Linked DNA regions of Homo sapiens. The protein of the gene in region 3 purifies or fractionates together with the protein of the main gene of each other region. This does not show direct contact. Each region holds a gene or a part of one and is shown on either strand. Other genes may lie near its edges. The genes, in order: TMEM67, LRIG1, GML and EIF2A.

Region 1 (4,775 bases), about 49 Mb from region 3:
TTGAATCCAGGGCTTCTTTTGCTAAATTTGGAGCACTTTCCATTAAGCCACACTCCTCACTGCTCCTTGACTTACAGTTATTTCCCCTCAGCTTATATTTGTCAATATTTACAAAAAAAACACATGCTTCATGCTTGTAAGTGCTGAGTTAATGATCATTTTGAATGTTCCTCAATGTAGGTCATCAGCAAAGCCTTCTGAAAAGGCAGTTAGGACAGCAATGCCAGAGAAGGAAGCATTTACAAATCTCCCATAACAGAGGCACTGGTCTACAGAAGTATTTTAGGGGCCTGTATGTTTCTAAGGAGCATCCAAAGTACACAACAGCTTATAAAGAACCTCTCTAGGTTTTGTTTCATTATGAAATGAAGAGAAATCAAATGTTTCTAGAAAATCAGTAAAATCAGGGATATAAGAGTCAAAGTATAGTGATTGGGTACTACAGAAATAGACAAAGGGTAATGAATCTAGTGAATAATTATGCACATGATCAGGAAATGTAAATTGTGACAATGTGAACAAAGGAGTCGACAGTGTATGAAAATCTGAACACATTTTTATGCACCTAGCCAAAATAAAAATATCATACAAAATTTAGAATGATTTTAAATGTTTTCTGTTTTAATTTATCAGCAAGTAAGCCAATTGATCCTTTATTGTGAAATTTAATACTTAAAAACTTTTGCACTAAAATTAACTTCTTCTATGTTGAATGATGGTTGAATTTCTTTCATATGCTTCTGAGTGAGTGGTTTTAAATATCCATGCCATATAAGTACATGTATTTATCTCTGCAGCTTTTATAAAGGCATTCCTGTACTGTGATCCTTCAGAAACTGCAGTTTCAAAGACTTCCTTTTCAGTCATCCTCAAGATTCAGGGAAATGTAAAAGATTCAACTTTGGCAATGGCTGGGACCTCTGCCCCAATAATGTTATATTCCTAAATGGTACTCCATCAGATATACATTAATGAAACAGAAAACAGAAATACCAAATGTTTTAGTATATATTTTCATCTGAGAAAATATAAATAATATTTATACAGTATTCCATTTTAAGTATTTACACAGCATTAACATAGAAAGCAGTGAGAAACATGATACATTTACAGTGTTTTGTTTTTGTTTTTTCTGAGACAGGGTCTTGCTCTGTCATCCTGGCTGGAGTGCAGTGGTGCTATCTGGCTCACTACAGCCTCCACCTCCTGGTTTCAAGCTATTCTCATGCCTCAGCCTCCCAAATAGCTGGGATTACAGGCCACCACATCCAACTAATTTTTGTATTTTTTGTAGAGATGGGGTTTTCCATGTTGGCCAGGCTGTTCTTGAACTCCTGACCTAAAGTGATCCACGTGCCTTGGCCTTCCAAAGTGCTGGGATTACAGGCGTAAGCCACAGCGCCCAGCCTTACTGTTTGTTATTTACAGTCTTTAAACGTAATTGAAAAGCAAAACTCTGGAAGAGAACTCTTAAAACATTAAGTAATTAAAATGTATAAAAAATGATATTGGGAAAAATGTCATACGTTATAACTTAATAAATGTAAACTATATTAGAAATGCAAATATATTTCATGGAAAGCGTATACTGACCTAATACAGGTATACAAAGGAATGAAAAGATATCATTTCATGAGATGCATATTAACCCAACAGTGAATTAATCCACTGCCAAAGAGGATGAGCAATTAGAATGATGCAAATTGAATCAGCAATAATACAATTTAAAATTTCTAAGTAAACTTGAAAATATCTTTCAACATTTATTTAACCATAAGCACACAAAACATGAAAATATCAAACTGAAAACTAGTCTTAAACTTGGAATCAAATTACTTTGTCAATGTGAGAAGATTCAGGCAGCTCTCAGTTTATAAAATAATCTACAGAGACAAATGATGGGGACTGTTTTAATTAGCATTAAAAAGTATTATGCTGAAAGCAACATTTAGATTTTTTTTGGCCTCACTGTCAGTATTAATTTATTATTTACTGCATTAAATACTACACACAATGGGAAAACAGTATTTTCTATTATATCAGGTTATATATTCCCAAGTTATAAAAATAAATCTTTCTGCAAATAAAAAACAAAAACAGAATAGTCTGCATTATAAGTTTTAAAAAATATGGCAAACTAACCTGATATCATGACTTTTTTTTGGCCATGATTATACTGAGTCTTTAAGTTATTTATTCAGGAAGTTAAATCAAAAATCTTTGATCCACCAATGTTTTGGATGCCAAATTCTTTTGTCCTACTGTATTACGGATATATCTAAAAATCTGGAAAATTAAAACAATTCAGAATGAAAAGAAATATAAACAGAATTAAATATGCACGTCGATTAAAATATCTAGATTAAATTAGCTAATTCTCTCAACTATTTTCATGTATCAGGTATCTGAATCCCATAGTGATACATAAAATTATTTCAAGATGATAATTTCTTTCATAGTTTCATAGTATGTTCCCATTTAGAGTAAATTCTTATGAATTAATAATACAAATTCTCTCATGTTCACAGAAATACACTTTAAAATATATAGAAAGGCAACTTTCTTCTAAGTCTAAAACTACGGAAACATCAAAAGAATCTACTCACTAGAGATAGAATTTCTTCACAATTCTAGATCACTGTCAAGGACTAATAAATTGCATCTTACTTATATATACTTCTTTGACATAGTGGAGAATATTTAGTTGATAATAACACCATTTCAAGAACAGATTTGCCAATTCTTGAAATCTCTATTTCAGGGTCCACACTCATACATGAAGTTGCTTTTTATCCACACAGGTGGGGGAGGTGTCAAAGCTGCAAGCTTTGGTGCTGAGCCCTGAGCTAGCTCTCCAGTGCTTGTTTTTTTGTTACTTAACGTCTGGAGAGGGTGGATGGGACTCTAATTACTGTTCACTTGTAGCATCTAGGAGACTAGCAGTTAAGTGTCTTCCTATAGGATTCCTCTTCCATGTATAATCAAGCAACTTATGCCCTCCACTAGACCCCAGTATTTCATTGACCCTAAAGGACAGAGTACAGTTGGTTGAAATGTTATTCCTTCTTTTGGTGGGGTTAGTCATATTCTAAACCTTTACAAAATTGTAGTAAAAGTAGACATTGTTACTCTCTGCTATGAAAATATCTACTTCTAACATATTTCTCTCAAGAAAATGAAGGAAAATGTAGAAAAATTTTAAAAGTTTACCTCTTGTTGTAGATATGTAAGGAAGGATGCTAAAATAAAATTTTGGCAAGCCAAATCCACAACACAGAAGAACAGCAGATCAAAAATAAGAAGAGTAGCTTCATTTCCATAATACAGGACACTGCTGAAAGAATAACCTTCATCTATTAAAAAAATTTAGAAAATATAAATTAGAAATTTAAAAAAGGAACAAGTCTGTGATAAACTTCTGGTGACAAAATCTGGATGTTTAAAAACAGCACATTAGAAACATACTGTATACAATACTTCATGGCTTACACAAAAATAAACAAACATTTTAAGATTTGTTCATCTAAAAGAGGTTAGTTAAAAACTCATAAAAACTTCTAAAAAGCAGTTTTAACATTAGGACCAATGGTTGGTAATTGCTAGTAGTGTAAGTTTCAAAGACCATTTAATAAATAGCCTTTCTCTATTTCTTTATACAACTAAAAGCTAAATTAGTCTTACAAACATTCCCTAAGATACAGTAAATCAGAGAAAAAACCAGCAAGGCATAGAGTAAGTACATAGTGTTCAAGAGTTCAAGAATTTATCTCAAATAGTCCCGCTGAGGTTTTGCTCTAAGACCTCTTCTCACTCCACCAGCGAGTTTCATCCTTATTGGGATGTGAACACCCTTTTAAAAAGATTATGATGAGGCCGGGCACAGTGGCTCATGCCTGTAATTCCAGCACTTTGGGAGGCTGAGGCAGGAGGACTGCTTGAGGCCAGGAGTTCAAGACCAGCCTAGGCAACATAGTCAGACTCCATCTCTACAAAAAAAAAAAAAAAGAAAGAAAGAAAAGCTAGGTCTGGTGGGTCTGCTGGTGCACACCTGTAGTCTTAGCTATTTGGGAAGCTGAGATGGGAGGACTGCATGAACCAAGGAGTTTGAGGTTATAGCGAGCTATTAATATGATTGCACCACTGCACTCTAGCCTGGGCAACAGAGCAAGAACCTGTCACTAAAAAAAAACAAAAAAAAGCCCGATGAAAGCTATAGATCTTTCCATTAGGAAAAAAAAAAAAAAAGTATACATAAACTTGGGAGGCCGAGGCGGGCAGATCACGAGGTCAGGCGATCAAGACTATCCTGGCTAACACGGTGAAACCCCGTCTCCACTAAAAATACAAAAAATTAGCCACGCATGGTGGCGGGCGCCTGTAGTCCCAGCTACTCAGGAGGCTGAGGCAGGAGAATAGCATGAACCTGGGAGGCGGAGCTTGCAGTGAGCCGAGATCGTGCCACTGCACTCCAGCCTGGGCAACAGAGCAATACTACGTCTCAAAAAAAAAAAAAAAAAAAAAAGTATACATATACAACTCTTGCAAACAATTAAACAATTTCAGGGAAATCCAGAGAACCACTGAAGCAGCCCATGGACACCCAGTTAGGAACATCTGCTTTATACAAGAGGGCATGTGGAGTGCTGGTAATGTTCTCTCTTGAAAGGGTACTAGTTACAGGGGTATATTCAGTTTGTGAAAATTCACTGATCTATAAGTTATATCCTTACAAAATATGCACATTACACTTGCATATATAATCTTAAAAAACCTGT
Region 2 (7,047 bases), on a different chromosome or scaffold from region 3:
TCTGGATCCAGAGGAAGTTCAGCAGGCCTGTTCTCAAAAGTGGTGATGGTGAAGGTAGGGGTGGATGCATGGAGAGGGCACACACATCTTGCCTCCAGCAGGCACACTGGCTACTCCAGCAGGCACAATGGCTATTGCTATGGCCAGAAAGTAGGAGACAGAAGTGGCCCACAAGGGTTGCCATATGGATGGGTGAGTTCCTGGTTAGGATCCTCACAGCAGGGATCTCAAGGCTCAAGGGAGACCAGTGAGCACAAAAGGCAGGAGGGACTTAACACCTGCCCAGCAGTTCCAGTCAGGCCTGGGAATCCCACTCTTGCTCCTGCTTAGAGCAAGCAAACAGGAAAAACTCAAAATTCATCTCATTTTTTGACCATGTCTTCCTGACCGTGAGCCTGTGTCAGTCCTGTCTGAGCTAGCCTGCGTGTGTGTTTTCAGCTGTTCAGCATTTTCTGTGCTCTCTGCAACCAAACTTGGATCCCGACTCCCAGTCAAAAAGATGGCAAGAGCTACGCTCCAGGAATCAGAAGGCAAAAAGAATGTAAAGCTGCAAGTGCAGATTTCAGTGGTTTGGAGAAACAGCAAGAGTACAAGTCAACATCAAGGAATTATTTTTACTACAGCAACTGTTCTCCTGAGACTTGTTCTTCCTGTATTTAACCTTTCATTCTTGGGGTCGGAAAGAAACACACATTAAAACGCCAGCCTCGTACGCGGAGTACATTCGCAGCTAAACCCGGGCACCAGAGCCCTTCTGAAACAACAGAACTATCTTCCTGTAACTGATTATTCTGATTTGTAACTGAACCAACTTATACTCCCTTCTGATTAAATGCATGTCCTCCAAGAACCACATAATGAGGCAACTCTACGGTAAATACTGTGTGTGGTTTCAGCAAGAAATAAATTGCATCCAGCAGCTGATCTGTAACCACGGGCTGGGGTTTACTCTGATCACAGGAATTACTCCCATAATGAAGAGTACCTCCTGGCTTCCTTGTCCTTCATGAAGGAGAGAAAAAGTTACAAAGACAGTCTTACCGCACACGAAACTCTCTGGTGGCACAGAGAAAATGCTCTGACCCTTCAGTGATTCTGGGTGGGCACAGGTGGCTGTCACAAAGGCCTGCAGCATCCTGCCAATTAGCCACGGGGGCAGCCACTTCAGCTGGCAGTCACACAGGAAGCTGTCGCTGCTGATATGGCTGAAAGAAACACAACAGTGGATGCTTCAGGTGCAGCCGCAAAGGAGGGACACTCCCTTCACACACACAATGATCAGTCGCCTCCAATCAGCTTCTCAAGTGAACATCAGCAAGCTGGAAGGGGGAAATGGTTTTTCTCACACTTCCTCTCCAATTTCCCAGGGCAGTGCATATAACCCACCTGGAGATTTTGAAAAAATGCAGTTGCTGATTGGGTGGGTCAGGAGTGGAACCCACGACTCTGCTAACAAGTTCACGTATCATGCTGGGGCTGCTGACCCAAGGACCGCAACTGGAGCAGCAGCAACGTGGAGCTTATCCATGCCATGTTCTGGGACAGACACTGTTCCTGTGTGACCCTGGGCTGCCTTCTGACCTCTCCTGACCTCTGATACATCCAACAGTGCTATGCTGCCACCATCCCCCCTCTGGTTTTTCCCACTTTCCTGATAAACTACTTGGAGCTTCCAAACTCGGCCTGAGACTTTGATCCAAATTCTGCAACAAGTTCCGAGGAGGGCTCTTTTGCCTCATGGCTGTTCCTTTTCCATTTGGCAAAGCTGCATGTTTTCTTACTTCCAAATGTAATAAGCCCCGTCACTGTGCCACCCTCTTGTTTGTGCCTTGATCTTTGCACCAGTATTCTTCAGGGGGCCGGCAGAATTCGGCTCTGCTCCCTAAATAGTGCTTGTTAGTTAATTGCCACTGCCCAGGGAGCATGAGAATGCACAACTTTAGCTTTGTGGGGCTCCAACCAAAACAGAGAATATTTTCTTTTTCATTTCTCAGCAACTAAGGATAAGCTTTTTAAACAGAAATCGGAATCGCCATCTCAGCGGACATTCCTTCCTGAGGAGTCACTTGAAGATAAGTCAACCAAGAGTCTAGCTGCCTTGTTCCTGGAAGACCTCAGAGCTGTGAGCTAAAGAATGATGGCTGGCCCACGATAAGGGAAGACTGGGAAAGAGAGCACACAGGCTTCCCTGCAATACACTGTCTCTGGTACATGGTGACAAACAGGAGGCACAGGTATGCGCAGAAATTCCAAAAACATCATGCAGGCCAAGAGCACGACTTTGGCTGCCTTCTCCACCCACCACTGTCCTCAGACATCAACAAAGCAACCAAATGGACTGGCCTTCCATTTTCTTCTGTTTCTCTCCAGATTTCTAATGAGCAGAGAAACTGTCACAGCAAGGAAGAATGAAGTGTAAGCAGATGACCCAAGGCTAAATTAAGTAAAATCCACTCTTCCTCATGTTCCCCATCACCCCTAGATGAGTTGGGCATCTTATTAAAATAATTATAATTTTGGAAAGTGCTTTTCCAAAAACAGAAATAACTTATCTCAAGGCCATTATAACTGGGATGCTGGCCCATATTAGATCTTAAAATCAGCATGAGAGTTTGCATTTTTATTTCACGGGCAGGTAGCGTTCTGCTGAGAGCCATCTGGAGGGCTGTCCTACTGTGGAGTCACTGCAGGTGGCGGAAGGGCTGTAACGGCCATCCCTGAGGAAATGGTCAATTCCCATGCAGTGTTTGGGGAGGGCAGCTCCCAGGAGTGCACCCTGCATGGGGGTCAGGGCTGGCTGCGCCAGGCATGGGGGGAACTCAGCCTGGATGGAGAACTCTCCGCTGTCAGAAGCACCTCCAGCTCCCCAGCAAGAGGGCACTTCCGTGCAGTCAGGCAGAACAGCCTGGGCACTGTTCACGAAAGCCTAGGAGAGAAGGCTGGGCCATCCCTGTGCGACGTTAAGCATTTGTGCAGGACACAAGGACATATTCCATTTGAACCACAGGAACAAACGGGAAAACAAATTTGACATTTATCTTTGATCAGACACATGTAGAAAGGGCTAAGCCTCATCCTACACACGCCCTGGACGTGTGGGGCTAACGCCTTTGAGGATTTCCTACTTCTTCCACCATGAAACCCACCTCAGACAGGAGGCCAGACTCCAGGAAGACAGTGGGTACTCAGGGTGGAGACAGCATGTTCCTAAACAGCAAGTTAGGACTGAGAGGATACATGGGGAGGGCCTGGGGCCAGGCAGTAGCGAGGATTCCAACCCCTAGGCTCTGCAGGCTCCTGCCGCCCTTCTTCCACCCGTGGAGAGCACAGCGCCATCGGCTCTACTGCCTTCTGCTGCCATCCCAGGGCTTTGCTGGCTCACATGGTGCATTTTCACGATTCCAACTCAAAGTGTGTTTCTAATCATCACTTGTGGAAATTTACCCAGAGGATGACTAAGTGCACAGTACAACCTGACTTGATCTGATGGAGAAAAAGACGACCAAGTGGAATTAACCATTTCTCTCATCTGAGGACTGGGCACAGGGCCGGCTCCAGCGAGGTATATGCAGCAACGATGGGAAACCCAGGCAGGAGACCGAGGCTGAGCCTCCAGAACCATGCAGAAGCACGCTGGAGGTCCAAGCTTCTGGAAGGGTCCAGTTCCTCCCAACTTCCCAAGGAAAATCTTATCCTCCTCCCTCCTTCTCTCAAAATACCTTCTTCCCGTTTAAATTGAATCAGGTATTTTTCAGTCCTGACATCATATCTGAAAGTTTCAAAGACAGAAAAGGTGAAAGAATTCCACAGTGAATGCTCCTGTGCCCCACCGCTTGTCTTCTACAACCAATGTTTCATTCCACTTGCTTTACTGCGAGTCCACCTCTGAGTCCAGCCTTCCCTTCCACGGTGGTCTGGAATCATCTCCTCCCCTGCTCTGGAAGGAGAGCCATGGAATCCTTTCTGTATGTTCCGTCTCACCCGACAGATGGAGGCAGAGCTGCTGAGGCTGGAAGAGGGAAGGCCCTGGGCACGGAGCAGCTGTCTGCAGAGCCCTGAGCTCCATGAACCCGTCACAGACACCCGCTCCAAGATCCAACCCTTGCAAGGACGGTATCTATTCAGCAGGCCTGAGGCTCACAGCATGCTGAACATCACAGGGCAAGTGCCCAGGCCACCTTCCCTCCTCACTCAGTCTGGTGTCACCCGGCCCGCTTCAGTTCCCAGCTATGGGGAATGCACCTCATTTCCCCAGTCCCAGCCTCCCTGCCCCAACTGAGGGTTCATCAAGAGTGGCCTCGGGGAATGGGGATGAGGTCAGGGCACAAAGATGACTGTCCTGTGGCATCTGCCATTCTGTCAGCACTTCTAGGAACCAAAAGTTACCCCTTCAGGGAACTGATATCATGGCTAGAACTTACTGGCTGTAGAATCAGATTCATGTCTAGCTAAAAAAAAAAAAAAAAAACCAGAAAGGAAAACTTGGGTGTTACACCTGAGGACCCAGACTAGCTCCCCTGCCAGAGTAGGATACAGGGAAGCTTTTCCAACCTTGTCACCCAAGAGCCCACAGTCCAAGTCCACAGTGGCAGCACCACCACCTGTGAACCGTGCCCAGAAAGCTTGGAAATGGTATGGGCAGACACCACTGCACCCCTAAGCATCCCATCCCCTCCAGAGCTCTGCCTTGCTCACAGCCCACCAGGCTCTGAAGTAGACCCTCTCAACACAGGCCTTTATCGTAAGCAAGCCCAAAAGATGAAAACTTGGCCCTGACATAATTGAAGGGGTGATTATCCACTTTATAGAGGAGAGTATATTTCACATTGCCTAGAATAGTGGTTAGCAAGCTTCAGCCTGCGGCCCGACTGCCTGCTTCTGTCAATGTGACTTTATGGGCACATAGCCACACCCACCTGCTTATGTAATGTCTATGGCTGCTTTCTGCTGCAATGATGCAATCAAGTAGTCATGACAGAGACTCTGTGGCCCACAAAATCCAAAATATGTACCATGTGAACTTTTAACAAGTGAGCATAATGCAATTGCAGAAGTTTCTTACTCTGAAAGTCTCCACTACCATTAATCAGACCCAGGGAATCCAGATACTTACAGCTCTTTAAGATTCTTCATCTTCACAAAGGCATCAAACTGGACAGATCTGATCGCATTCCCTCCAAGGTTCCTGAAACAGAACATACATTACTTATGCAAAGAAACCCTAGGTACACCTGAGGGGTTTTCAGGACAGTCCTGGTTTCACAGATGACCCACAGGGACTAGCCAGACCTGTGTCCTAACTACTATAAGTGGCTGTTGTTTCCCAAATCGCAACACAAGCCCATGGAATGACTCAGGAGCCAAGCCAGCCTTAGGGCACCATCAAAGCTGGGCTGAGGCCTGCTCAGCAAGGCAAAACCTTTCCCAACAGAGTTAGAGTCAAACTTGATTCAAAGAGGAAACAAACTAAGAATCACATACATGAGGCATCCTCCCCAGATGGCAACAGCATGACTGTCTCGGGTGGCTCTGTTCCCTTCCTCCCAGGGTCTCAGAAGCAACCACACCAAACTGGTTCAGCCCAGCACCTACTCTGCATTGTTAAGCTGCTTTAATGGAGGCAACAGGCTTGGCCAGGAGGAAGCGCGTTGGTGGAAGAGGCAATGAGGCCAGGGGTCCATGAAGGAGCCAGTGCAGGGGTTAGGCTGCGCAGCAGGAGGGGGGAGGGTATTTATCCAAATACCAACTGAATTAACTGGGAGCACATCCACTGGCCATATGTTCTGTAACTGTTCCTGGCATAGGCAACATAAAGGCCAAAGCTGAAGCTGACATAATGAGAAGGAAGCAGCTGGTGTTTCCAAATAGCCTGTTTCTCAGTTTACAAAGATGCGATTAAATTGCTAGCAGAACTCCCCGGCAGCCGCATTCAGCAGGCTGTGCCTCAGGGCAGGGCTGGTGAGATACTCACAGGTGCTCCAGGCCTTCCAGCCCCGAGAATGCTCTCTTAGCCACAGACTTGATCTTGTTTCCAAACAGAGTCCTGTAGTTTCCAAACATCCAGAAATTAAGGCCAGGGAAGGAAAGCGAAACAGGAAGGGTTGAGAGAAAGAAAAAGAAAAAGAAAACACACAATTAAGGTAGTGCTACCTGATAAGTCTGTCCAGTGAGGGGCAGGTGGAAAGCTGACCTGCGCTGAGATTACGGGTTTGAGGCACGCAGGCCTTCCCCTTTCTGAAATGAAATACTTTTATCTTTATTAGAATTTAATAGTGATGATAGGCTGGAATTGCATGTGCCGTCTGGCCTAAAAAAGGCCCCTCCCAGTGTTAGGCAGAAATCACCTTGTCTGGCCCAGTCTCTCTCCAAGGACCACCAACCCTTGGGTGGTGAAGTTTAGTGATGGAGAGATGAGACTGATTATGGTTTCAGTGAGAGGAAGCTGAGTCAAAAAAGGAAAGAAAAATCTTCGGAATTAAAACTGCTGACCATGACTGGGCATGGTGGCTCACACCTGTAATCCCAGCACTTTGGGAGGCTGAGGCAGGAGGATCACTTGAGCCCAAGAGTTTGAGACCTGGACAACATAGGGCAACCTTGTCTCTACAAAAACTAAAAAATTATCCGGGCATGGAGACACGCACCAGTAGTCGTAGCTACTTAGAAGGCTGAGGTGGGAGGATTGCTTGAGCCCAGGAGGTGGAGGCTGCAGTGAGCCATGATTGCGCCACTGCACTCCAGCCTGGGCAACATAGCGGGATGTTGTCTCAAACAAAAAACAAACAAAAACCCCCAAACTGCCACCCACTTCTGAAAAGTGCATTCTGGGAATAAAGCTTCCCAAAAGAGGCAAGAAGAGGACAGTAAAATAGGCATCCATCAAGCTGGCTCCACAGCTGTCTGCACCTGAGATGTCCTGGCAGCCAGCACACAGCCATGGTGAGCTGTGTCCCTGCCTACGAGAGGGACCCCTCAGGGCCTGCAGGAGATGCCCCAGTGCTTTGGCTCTTAAGCCAGACCCCAGACGTTACATGATGTCAGTGGGCC
Region 3 (2,598 bases):
ATGACTCAGTATCCTAAAGTGATCATAACAAGTGTTGTCAGGGTTCTGAACTGTGCACAATCCCTCAGACTATAGATAAGTTCAACCCAGTGTAGAAAACTCTTCGATGTTGTCGGCTAAAGCTGCGTATCAAACACTGAGACTCAGCGCTTCTACTCCTAGGTACATAGCTAATTATAAAAAAGCTTATACAGGCTCACCTTAAGGCAAATACAAGACAAGAGTATTCATTGCAGCACTATTTGGAGTAGACAAAAACCAGAAACAACCTCAATGTCCATCAACAATAAATTGTGGTATGTTCACCAATGTAATGCTATGCAATTTTGAGAATGAACAATATACAACAGTGTGCAACAATAGGGATAAATTTCATAAACACAGATTAGAGCAAAAGAAGCCATCCACAAAAGCAGATGTAATGTATAATTTCATTTCATAAAGTTCAAAACCAAACAGAACTAACCTATAGGTTTAGAAGCCCATACATTTCCTGTCTTTGGCCTGGGCTGCTCACAGCAGTGTCTGCATGGAGGAACAGAGTGAAGAATCCTGGGGCTCTCTTGCAGCTCTGTTTCTGATGCTGCATGCTGAGTACTGGCTGTGGGCACTTGGTGACAATCCATTGAGTTGTGGACTTATGGTCAGGCACATTTCTGTAGAATGGTGAACTCCAATAAACTTTTTAAATGGAAAATAACAGAAAACAAGTGACTGGTTCGTATTCATCATTTGTTTCTGGTGTTATAGAGGAGACAAGACCCAGAGCCATGAATAGATAAATCAATTATGGTAAGTTCCAGAATAAAGTATTTGTGTAAACACTGGATAGACTTCAAGGGGAACAGAAGTAGTGATGAGGGCCAAGGTATTTAACCCTGGGATTCTTGAAGGAGGTGTTAGATGGAGCTTTGGTCAGGTGGCATTGGTCAGCTGAGGCCACTGGACAAGCCCTCTAGTGAAGATTATTGATCACATTAGTCGTGATCACATTAGTTGCGATCGATAACCTTCACCAGAGGGCTTGTCCATCGGATAACACGTACCTAGTTGGAAAGGTGCATCAAGTCTGTACTGGGGAGGAGGTTGGCACCAAGGGTCAAGAGCATTTATATGTTGGTCCAGGAGACTGAAACACCAGGCTGAGGGTCCCAGGAAGGAGTTTACCCTAGAAGGGTCTTGCCAACTGCAGAAAATCTAGTTAAGGCTACATTAATATGGACACCTCTGTTAAAGGTCCATGTGATCTCTAGACCATAAGTGAAACATGATTTCTGGTCTGCATTTAATTTCTCGGGCTCTAGAATTCTTACCATAAGAAATGAACAGGACATTTCATTGCGTGTAGCTACATGACAAGGTACCATGATACCATTTTGGGAGGGCCAGAGGCCTAAAGATGGCAGCTTAGATAGAAAACTATCTCCAGAAGAAGTTGTTCTGGGAGTGATGAGACCCGCTAGTGGACTTGGATGTTCTCTCTTAGTCAAGTGTTCTAGACAATTTTATCACAGCTGGGAGTGTAGAATGTGTACATGGAGCTAATTATGGTTGAATGTGAGGTGTATGTGCCTCAATATTTACAAGCAGAAAATGTGAAATCAATTATTTTCATTGCTGCTTCTTTTTTTAGGCATAAATTCTCGTGAACTACTTGTTTATAAGAACTGTACAAACAACTGCACATTTGTATATGCAGCTGAACAGCCTCCTGAAGCCCCAGGAAAAATCTTCAAAACTAATAGCTTCTACTGGGTTTGTTGTTGTAATAGCATGGTTTGCAATGCAGGAGGACCTACTAATCTTGAAAGGGACATGTTACCCGATGAAGTAACTGAGGAGGAGCTTCCAGAAGGAACTGTGAGGCTGGGGGTATCAAAACTGTTGCTGAGTTTTGCCTCTATCATAGTCAGCAATATATTGCCATGAGGACCCCACCTTGGAGGGTCTGACCATCTTCACCTGTTCCGCAGAGAAATGTTGCTCTCCATTATTCCCTTCTAAGCCAGAGACCCTTATCCACTGCTCCTCTAGGTGGCCCATTTATGGTTTGTTGTAAGAGAAAAATTAAAAAAATATTGTTTAGTGGAGATGTTCATGAGCATTTGTTTGCCTGCATGTACTTGAGCACTCATAGTGGAGTCTCTATTCATATCTGTTCTTCCCTCCCTTGCTCTGTATTCAGGGATTACTTTGTGGTTTTATTATAATCAGTTGCTGTAGCTATTAATTGATTTTGGTAGTTTTGTCTTTGTGCTTCATACTAAAGTTATGAGTGGGTTGCACACTGCAGTTATAGCATTGCAATATTTTGGTTTGTCTGTGTACTTAATTTTACCCTAGGTTTTATACTTTCAGATGTTTTCTTTTTATACGTGAGTGTTTTTTTCTTTCAGTTTGAAGAGCTCCCTTTAGCATTTCTTGTAAGACAGATGTGGTGGTGGTGAATTCTCTCAGCTTTTGTTTGGGAGAGACTTTATTTCTCCTTCATATTTGAAGTTCAGTTTTGCTGGATACATTATTCTTGGATGACAGTTGAGGATTTTTTTTTTCTGTTCAACACTTTCAAAATGTCATACCACTCACTCCTGGCCTGTT
Region 4 (7,047 bases), on a different chromosome or scaffold from region 3:
AGCAAAAACTTGATCCTTCTTTCCTTTAGTATTAAGTGGAAAGGAACAATGTTTTCTTTTTTTTGTTTGTTTGAGAGGGAGTCTCGCTCTGTCACCCAGGCTGGAGTGCAATGGCCTGATCTTGGCTCACGGCAACCTCTGCCTTCTAGGTTCAAGCAATTTCACCTGCCTCAGCCTCCCAAGTAGCTGGGACTACAGGCACGTGCCACCATGCCTGGCTAATTTTTGTATTTTTAGTAGAGATGGGGTTTCACCATGTTGGCCAGGCTGGTCTTGAACTCCTGACCTCAGGTGATCCACCTGCCTTGGCCTCCCAAAGTGCTGGGATTGCAGGTGTGAGCCACCGCACCTGGCCTTTTCTATTAACATATATTGACTAAAACTATTAGTAACTGACTTAATATCATATTTATAAGTGTTTATAAGTGTTTTTCCTTAAATGGTAACCAATATCATAAATTACTTTAACATGTTAATGTGATGTTACATTCTGTCTGAATATTTTTTATACTTTTTTTTTTTTTCATTGACATAGGTGTCCATCCTGGTCAGAAGATGAAACTCTTTGTGCCCGCAATGTTAACAATGAAGTTCACTTCTTTGAAAACAACAATTTTAGTATGGAAAGATTTATGACATAATTTTATTACTTACTGTAATCGTATACAGTTTCCATTAACTTTTATGACATCATAGGGTTTTCCTAAATACTGTTAATCTATTAATCAATAATTACTCTTACATACATTTGCATAATTCTTTATAAGTCTGAATTCAGTGAAAATCTGTAACACAAAGGTTTTCTTTTACAATAACTTTTTATTATCTGGTAATTGCTATTAAGACATTTGAATATCTTTTCCTGAATTTAATTGCTATTGAAATTCTGTGACACAAATTTTTTAGATATTTTATCGTGTAGAATTTTAAACTTCAGACACCTAGTTCTAGTAACCATCAGCTTGTGGCCAATCTTATCTCATCCATACATCTCTCCAGCTACCATCTCTTACTAAGTGAAAGCAAATCCCAGATATGGTTATACTTTTATATACTTGTTAAATATGTAATTGTAAATATTTCAGAGTAGATTTCTGAAGATTGGGGCCTTTCATTTTTTAAACTTAGCCACAAAACCATTATCACAAATTATTAAATATGTGTTCAAATTTCTACTAATTGCAAATGTTACAATTTTTTTTAAAACTCGGGATCCAAATAAGGTACTGCACATTGTGGTTGATTGATATATCTTTTATGTTTCTTTTGGTCCTATAAGTTCCCACTCTATCTGTTATTTTATTCTTCATAATTTATTGTTTAAGAAACAAGGTTATTTGTCTTTCACGTTTTCCCATAGTTTGAATTTTGCTTTTGTATCCCATGGTATAATTTAACATGTTCATCTGTCCCCTATAAATTGCAAGTTGGCTCTAGAGTTTCAGCTTCAGGTTCTTTTTTAGGTGAGTAAGGGTAAGACTACATTATAAGGTGATGTTCACTTCTTTTATCAAGAAGCACATAATGTCTGGTTGTCTTTAATTTTGTAGGCTTAGCTGACATTAATGTTTCATGCCTGGATGCATTATTTCATCAGTGGTTGCAAATTGTTGATACTCTGGTTTTTTCTCCCTCACTTATTTTTCAGCTGTACTGCTTCTATAAAGAAAAATTTCCCCTTCTACTATTTGGTTACCTAGTGCTGCATTTATATAGAAAAGGCGGGATAAATATTCTTGCTCTTATCAGTTTTAATATAATGTATTCCACCTCTAGCAACCTTCATTGTAACCAATTAGCTTTTTCCCCATTCTTGTTTTTCGAGAGTGGGCCTCATTCTTTTGTCCAAGCTGAGTGCAATCATGGCTCACTGCAATCTCGACTTCCTGGGCTCAAGCAATTCTCCTGCCTCAGCCTCCCAAGTAGCTGGGACTACAGGCTTGCACCACCATGCCCGGCTAATTTTTGATTATTTGTAGAGACAGGATCTCATTATGTTGCCCAGGCTGTTTTTTAGTTCCATTCTTTTTTTTTTTTTTTTTTTTTTTTGAGATGGAGTTTCGCTGTTGTTGCCCGGGCTGGAGTGCAATGGTGCGATCTCGGCTTACCGCAACCTCTGCCTCCCAGGTTCAAGCGATTCTCCTGCCTCAGCCTCCTGAGTAGCTGAGATTACAGGCATGTGCCAACATGCCCGGCCAATTTTGTATTTTTAGTAGAGATGGGGTTTCGCCATGTTGGTCAGGCTGGTCTCGAGCTCCCGACCTCAGGTGATCCACCTGCCTCACCCTCCCAAAGTGCTGGCATTACAGGCGTGAGCCACCACGCCTGGCCTTTTTAGTCCCATTCTTAATGAGCTGTGGATTTAAAAGGTATGTGTTTCAGTCCATTGTAGTTATTTTTCTTATTGATGCTCAAATTGTCTCATCTTTGATCAATTAATCCTTAGTGACTTCTTTGCTATATGGTAAGACAAGTCATTCTAGGATTAATTTGTACATTTCTAACCATTACACCTAGAACTGGCTAATTTTTCAGGAAACCCTGTCGCCTTTTTGGTGTGCTACTTTTGAATAGCTATTGATCTCTGAAATTGAACAAAGAAAAAGTATTAGCTCTTGATCTCATTGAAGGAAACATTAAAAGGTAATAGGGTTTCTTGAAAAATTGGCTGAGTCTAGCAAAAAAAAAGGTATTTAGGTTCTAGAGATTCTTATTTGCTGTTGCATTGATCATTGTTTCTAGGCCTTTTTTTTCTATTTAAAAGATGTAACAATCATAATTTTATTTAAATTAAAGTTTTATACGTATAGTTTTATTTAAATTGAAGACTACAAGGTTTTTATTTAACTTCTATCTTATTTGTATTGCCTTCTGTCACCACCAAGAATCTTGTTACTCTGGAATACCAGGGATGATAATTTGAGAATATCACATTCACATAAGTATTCATTTGGTTTGTTCCACATTATCCACAAGGTATTCTTACAATCTTAATACCAAAAAGTAACACTGTTACTGAAAATAATTTTTTAAAAAGGGTTTGCAGTTCTTTTGTCTTTAGAGCATCCCATTACTGATTGTACAGTTTTGAGTATATCATAGTTAGAATAGGAATTGGTAACTTTGTTCACACGTACCAAAGATGGCATGTAGGCTGATTTTGAGCAGCATCCAATCAGTATAGTTATGCATTTTATTTTCCTGTGTTTGAGGCGCACTGTCACCTCACTGTTTCTGGGTTAGCTTGCTTTCTTGTCTTATTCTCCTCTTTGTGAGCATGTCAAATGAAGAGGGATCACCACTTTGACAGTTTGGTGTGCTGCTTTTGAAAAGCCATTGATCTCTGAAATTGAACAAAGAAAGTATATTAGCTCTTGATCTAATTAACTAGAGTGGCAGTTTTATTAATAATAGCATGGCTCAGACTGCCTGGAATAGAGTAAGCTCTTAATATCAGCCATTGTTACTGTGGTTGTGATCATCATTATCATGCATCTGTTTATCACATTAAGTTACAGAATTTCCATATCCACATTCTGCAGTAGCAGGCCAAGGTTGATCTTTTCCTTCTAATAGGCTCTAAGACCACTTTATTTCAGCGATTGAAGAGAGGATAACTGACATTTATCAAATACCTACCATGTGCCTGGCACTCTTCTCTTAAAACCAATTACTGAGAGTTGGGTGGTATAATCCCATTACTTGCCTAAGCTCACACTGCAAGTAAATGACTGAGTAGAAATTGAAGCCTACATTTGTCTTGCTCCTACCCCATGCTTTTTCCACTGTGTTACTGTATCTCACCAGGAGGAGACTACAGTGAGTAGTATTGGTGTGTAGTTATAGTGATCTTTGATAATGTATTCAGAGTTTAACATGTTCCTTTTAGGTTCTCTCATCAATCTGATTTAATTTACTCTTTTTTTTAGACACAATTGCAAATAAATTGCATTTGCAAAAAATTAATGATTTTGTATTATCACCTGGACCCCAACCATACAAGGTAATTGCTGTTTTTGTTTATGTGTAATATTATGTGTTTAAACCTTTTCCTAGTTTTTTGTGATTGTAAAAACATGTCCATCTCAGTTTTTATTCTTCAAAAAATTAAGTAATGATTTATGTCTATGTATCTTAGGTGGCTGTCTATGTTCCAGGAAGTAAAGGTGCACCTTCATTTGTTAGATTATATCAGTACCCCAACTTTGCTGGACCTCATGCAGCTTTAGCTAATAAAAGTTTCTTTAAGGCAGATAAAGTTACAATGCTGTGGAATAAAAAAGGTATGTTAAGTATATTTTATCCCTCCCTTTGTTTATCAGTTGTTAATTTAGGCTATATTCCTATGTGTATAACAGAAGAATCAATGCCCATTTGTGTTTTAAATCTAATTAAAGTTTTTACTGTTATAGCTACTGCTGTGTTGGTAATAGCTAGCACAGATGTTGACAAGACAGGAGCTTCCTACTATGGAGAACAAACTCTACACTACATTGCAACAAATGGAGAAAGTGCTGTAGTGCAATTACGTGAGTATTCCAGCAGTCTTCCTTTGATTAGAAACAATGATAGTAAAAAATACTATGCCATAAAGATGATATAATCTAAATTCTTGATCAAAAGATAGAATTCATATGCCTTAATAACCTTTAAGATAAAATTTTTCTTAATTAAGAAACTTAAAAATCATCCTCCAACATACCTTATTTTGGCAGAATACAATTAGTTATTTGAGTTACGCCATCGTTTTAGAAGTGAACTTCCTGAGTAAGGTAATTCCATTGTAGTAGCTCTTTTGGAACTTACTTAGCTAATTATGACGGCAAATTGCTTAATACTGTCTTTAGAATTGTTAGTAATATGCAAGAGGCCAGGCATGGTGGCTCGTGCCAGTAATTCCAACACATTTTGGGAGTCTGAGATGGGAGGATCATTTGAACTCAGGAGTTCAAGACCAGCCTGATCAACATAGTGAGACCCTACCTCTACAAAAAATAGAAAAAGTTAGCCAGGCATGGTGGCGTATGCCTGTAGTCCCAGCTCCTCAGGAGACTGAGGCAGGAGGATCACTTGAGCCCAGAAGTTCAAGGCTGCAGTGAGCTATGATCATGTCACTGTACTTCAGCCTGGGTGAAAGAGCGAGACCCTGTCTCAAAATAATAATATCCAAGAATGTTACCACTTCATCTGTTGTTTTAATGAACTAAAACTTTAAAATAATAGTTTTAAAATACTGATAGCGTCCTAATTTTCTCATTTTGAATTGAACATGTGTAAGTAGGGTAATCTATGTTTTAAAAAAACTATTTCCATTGAAGTCAGAGAAAAAACAAGGATGGCTCCCCTTTTCACTTTATTTTAATAACATTCTGAAATACCTAGTCACTATAATCAGCAGAAGTAAAATATATACAGTTTTGAAAGAAAACAAAATCATCTCTGCTCATGTAGATGAAGTCACACTATAACAGCTACTTTAAAAAAATGAAAGATTCCATATATAGCAAAAATAATAAGAACAAATATATAGGGCCAATGAGAAGAAAACTTTAAAACTCTTCAGAGAGACAAACTATGACCTTTACTAAGAAGAATTATTTTTATAAAGATGTCATTTCTCTCTTGTCAGTCTAAAACTAAATTTAAATGCTAACTGATTTTTTTTTTTTAACTAAATAAACTGGCTGTAAGGTTGGTGTTGAAAAATGAACACACAAGAATATTTTGGAAACTTGTGTAAAAGAAGAGCAGGGCAGGGGAAGTTATCTGGAGTTCTGACACTACCAGATATTAAAATGTACCCAGCACTTTGGGAGGTTGAGGCGGGCAGATCATGAGGTCAGGAGATCAAGACCATCCTGGCTAACATGGTGAAACCCCATCTTTACTAAAAATACAAAAATTAGTTGGGTGTGGTGGTACATGCCTGTAATCCTAGCTACTCGGGAGGCTGAGGCATGAGAATTGCTTGAACCCAGGAGTGGGAGGTTGCAATGAGCCAAGATCGTGCCACCGCACTCCAGCCCGCTGACAGGGTGAGACTCTGTCACAAAAAAAAAAAAAGTAAGCCAATTGTAATTAAGACAGTTTGGTTGTGGTATATGGATATACTGGTAAAACTGATAAATCAGTGGAAGAGAACAGAGTCCAGAAGTAGATCCATACTTTTGTAGACATTAATATATAATAAAGTCAGCATTTGAATCAATGGAGGAGAAAATATTGATCATTTAATATGTGGTTTGGGATAACTGGCTAGCCATTCGAAACAAAAGGTTATTATCTTCTTCACAAAATAAATTCTGGTTGGGTCAAAAACTTATACATAAGACTGCAGAGGAATTAGAAGAATATATGGGAGAATTTTTTTTCTAATCTTAAGAGTAGAAAAAGACTTTTTAAACAAGATAGAAGTACTAAGGGGAAAAAATAATGAATTTGACTAGAGAAGAATAATGGATTATTACAATGAGAGAAGAAAAGAGTCCATAAATTAAGCAAAATGAACAAAAAGTTGGGGAAAATATGTTTTTTAAATAGTCAAGTGATAAGTATGAGGAAGGTCAAATTTTCTTAATATATCAAGTAAGCCAAGTAAAAGACCAATAATTGGAGAAAAATAAAATAGGCATAGGATAGTAAAAATTAGTCCTCAGAGCCGGTGCAGTGGCTCATGCATATAATCCCAACTATCTAGGAGGCTGAGGTGGGAGGATTGTATGAGCCGAGAAATTTGAGGCTGCAGCAAGCTAAGATCCTACGGCTGTACTGCAGTCTTGGTGACAAAATGAGACCATCTCTTTAAAAAAAAAAAGAAGAAGAAAAAAAATCAGCCCATAGAAAAAGAAATAAAATTACTTACAGTAAAAGATGCTTAACTTATAATTTAAAAAATACAAATGAAAACAAGATAGACATTTTCACTTAGTAGGCTGATGAAGATAAAAATATGAAACTACACAGTATAGTTGAAGGATAGTGAGGGGGAAGCCTGCATCATCAAAAACTGCTGACAGAGGCTGGGCACGGTGGCTCATGCCTGTAATC

What was found.
Region 1: the proteins of GML (region 3) and TMEM67 purify together in Homo sapiens (affinity purification with mass spectrometry; 2 studies listed by BioGRID and IntAct, with this or other methods). This does not show direct contact.
Region 2: the proteins of GML (region 3) and LRIG1 purify together in Homo sapiens (affinity purification with mass spectrometry; 2 studies listed by BioGRID and IntAct, with this or other methods). This does not show direct contact.
Region 4: the proteins of GML (region 3) and EIF2A purify together in Homo sapiens (affinity purification with mass spectrometry; 2 studies listed by BioGRID and IntAct, with this or other methods). This does not show direct contact.

The regions. Positions count from the first base shown.
Region 1 is NC_000008.11:93,813,883-93,818,657, reverse strand, and holds the end of TMEM67 (meckelin isoform 1 precursor), read right to left. Parts: intron 3,354-4,775; coding exon 3,211-3,353; intron 2,287-3,210; coding exon 2,206-2,286; 3' UTR 537-2,205; downstream 1-536. UniProt on the Homo sapiens protein: Required for ciliary structure and function. Part of the tectonic-like complex which is required for tissue-specific ciliogenesis and may regulate ciliary membrane composition.
Region 2 is NC_000003.12:66,392,999-66,400,045, forward strand, and holds part of LRIG1 (leucine-rich repeats and immunoglobulin-like domains protein 1 isoform 1 precursor), read right to left. Parts: intron 6,044-7,047; coding exon 5,972-6,043; intron 5,186-5,971; coding exon 5,114-5,185; intron 1,206-5,113; coding exon 1,042-1,205; intron 1-1,041. UniProt on the Homo sapiens protein: Acts as a feedback negative regulator of signaling by receptor tyrosine kinases, through a mechanism that involves enhancement of receptor ubiquitination and accelerated intracellular degradation.
Region 3 is NC_000008.11:142,844,762-142,847,359, forward strand, and holds the end of GML (glycosyl-phosphatidylinositol-anchored molecule-like protein precursor), read left to right. Parts: intron 1-1,633; coding exon 1,634-1,929; 3' UTR 1,930-2,090; downstream 2,091-2,598. UniProt on the Homo sapiens protein: May play a role in the apoptotic pathway or cell-cycle regulation induced by p53/TP53 after DNA damage.
Region 4 is NC_000003.12:150,563,764-150,570,810, forward strand, and holds part of EIF2A (eukaryotic translation initiation factor 2A), read left to right. Parts: intron 1-535; coding exon 536-618; exon of another isoform or gene 619-3,343; intron 3,344-3,929; coding exon 3,930-4,003; intron 4,004-4,138; coding exon 4,139-4,283; intron 4,284-4,412; coding exon 4,413-4,529; intron 4,530-7,047. UniProt on the Homo sapiens protein: Functions in the early steps of protein synthesis of a small number of specific mRNAs. Acts by directing the binding of methionyl-tRNAi to 40S ribosomal subunits.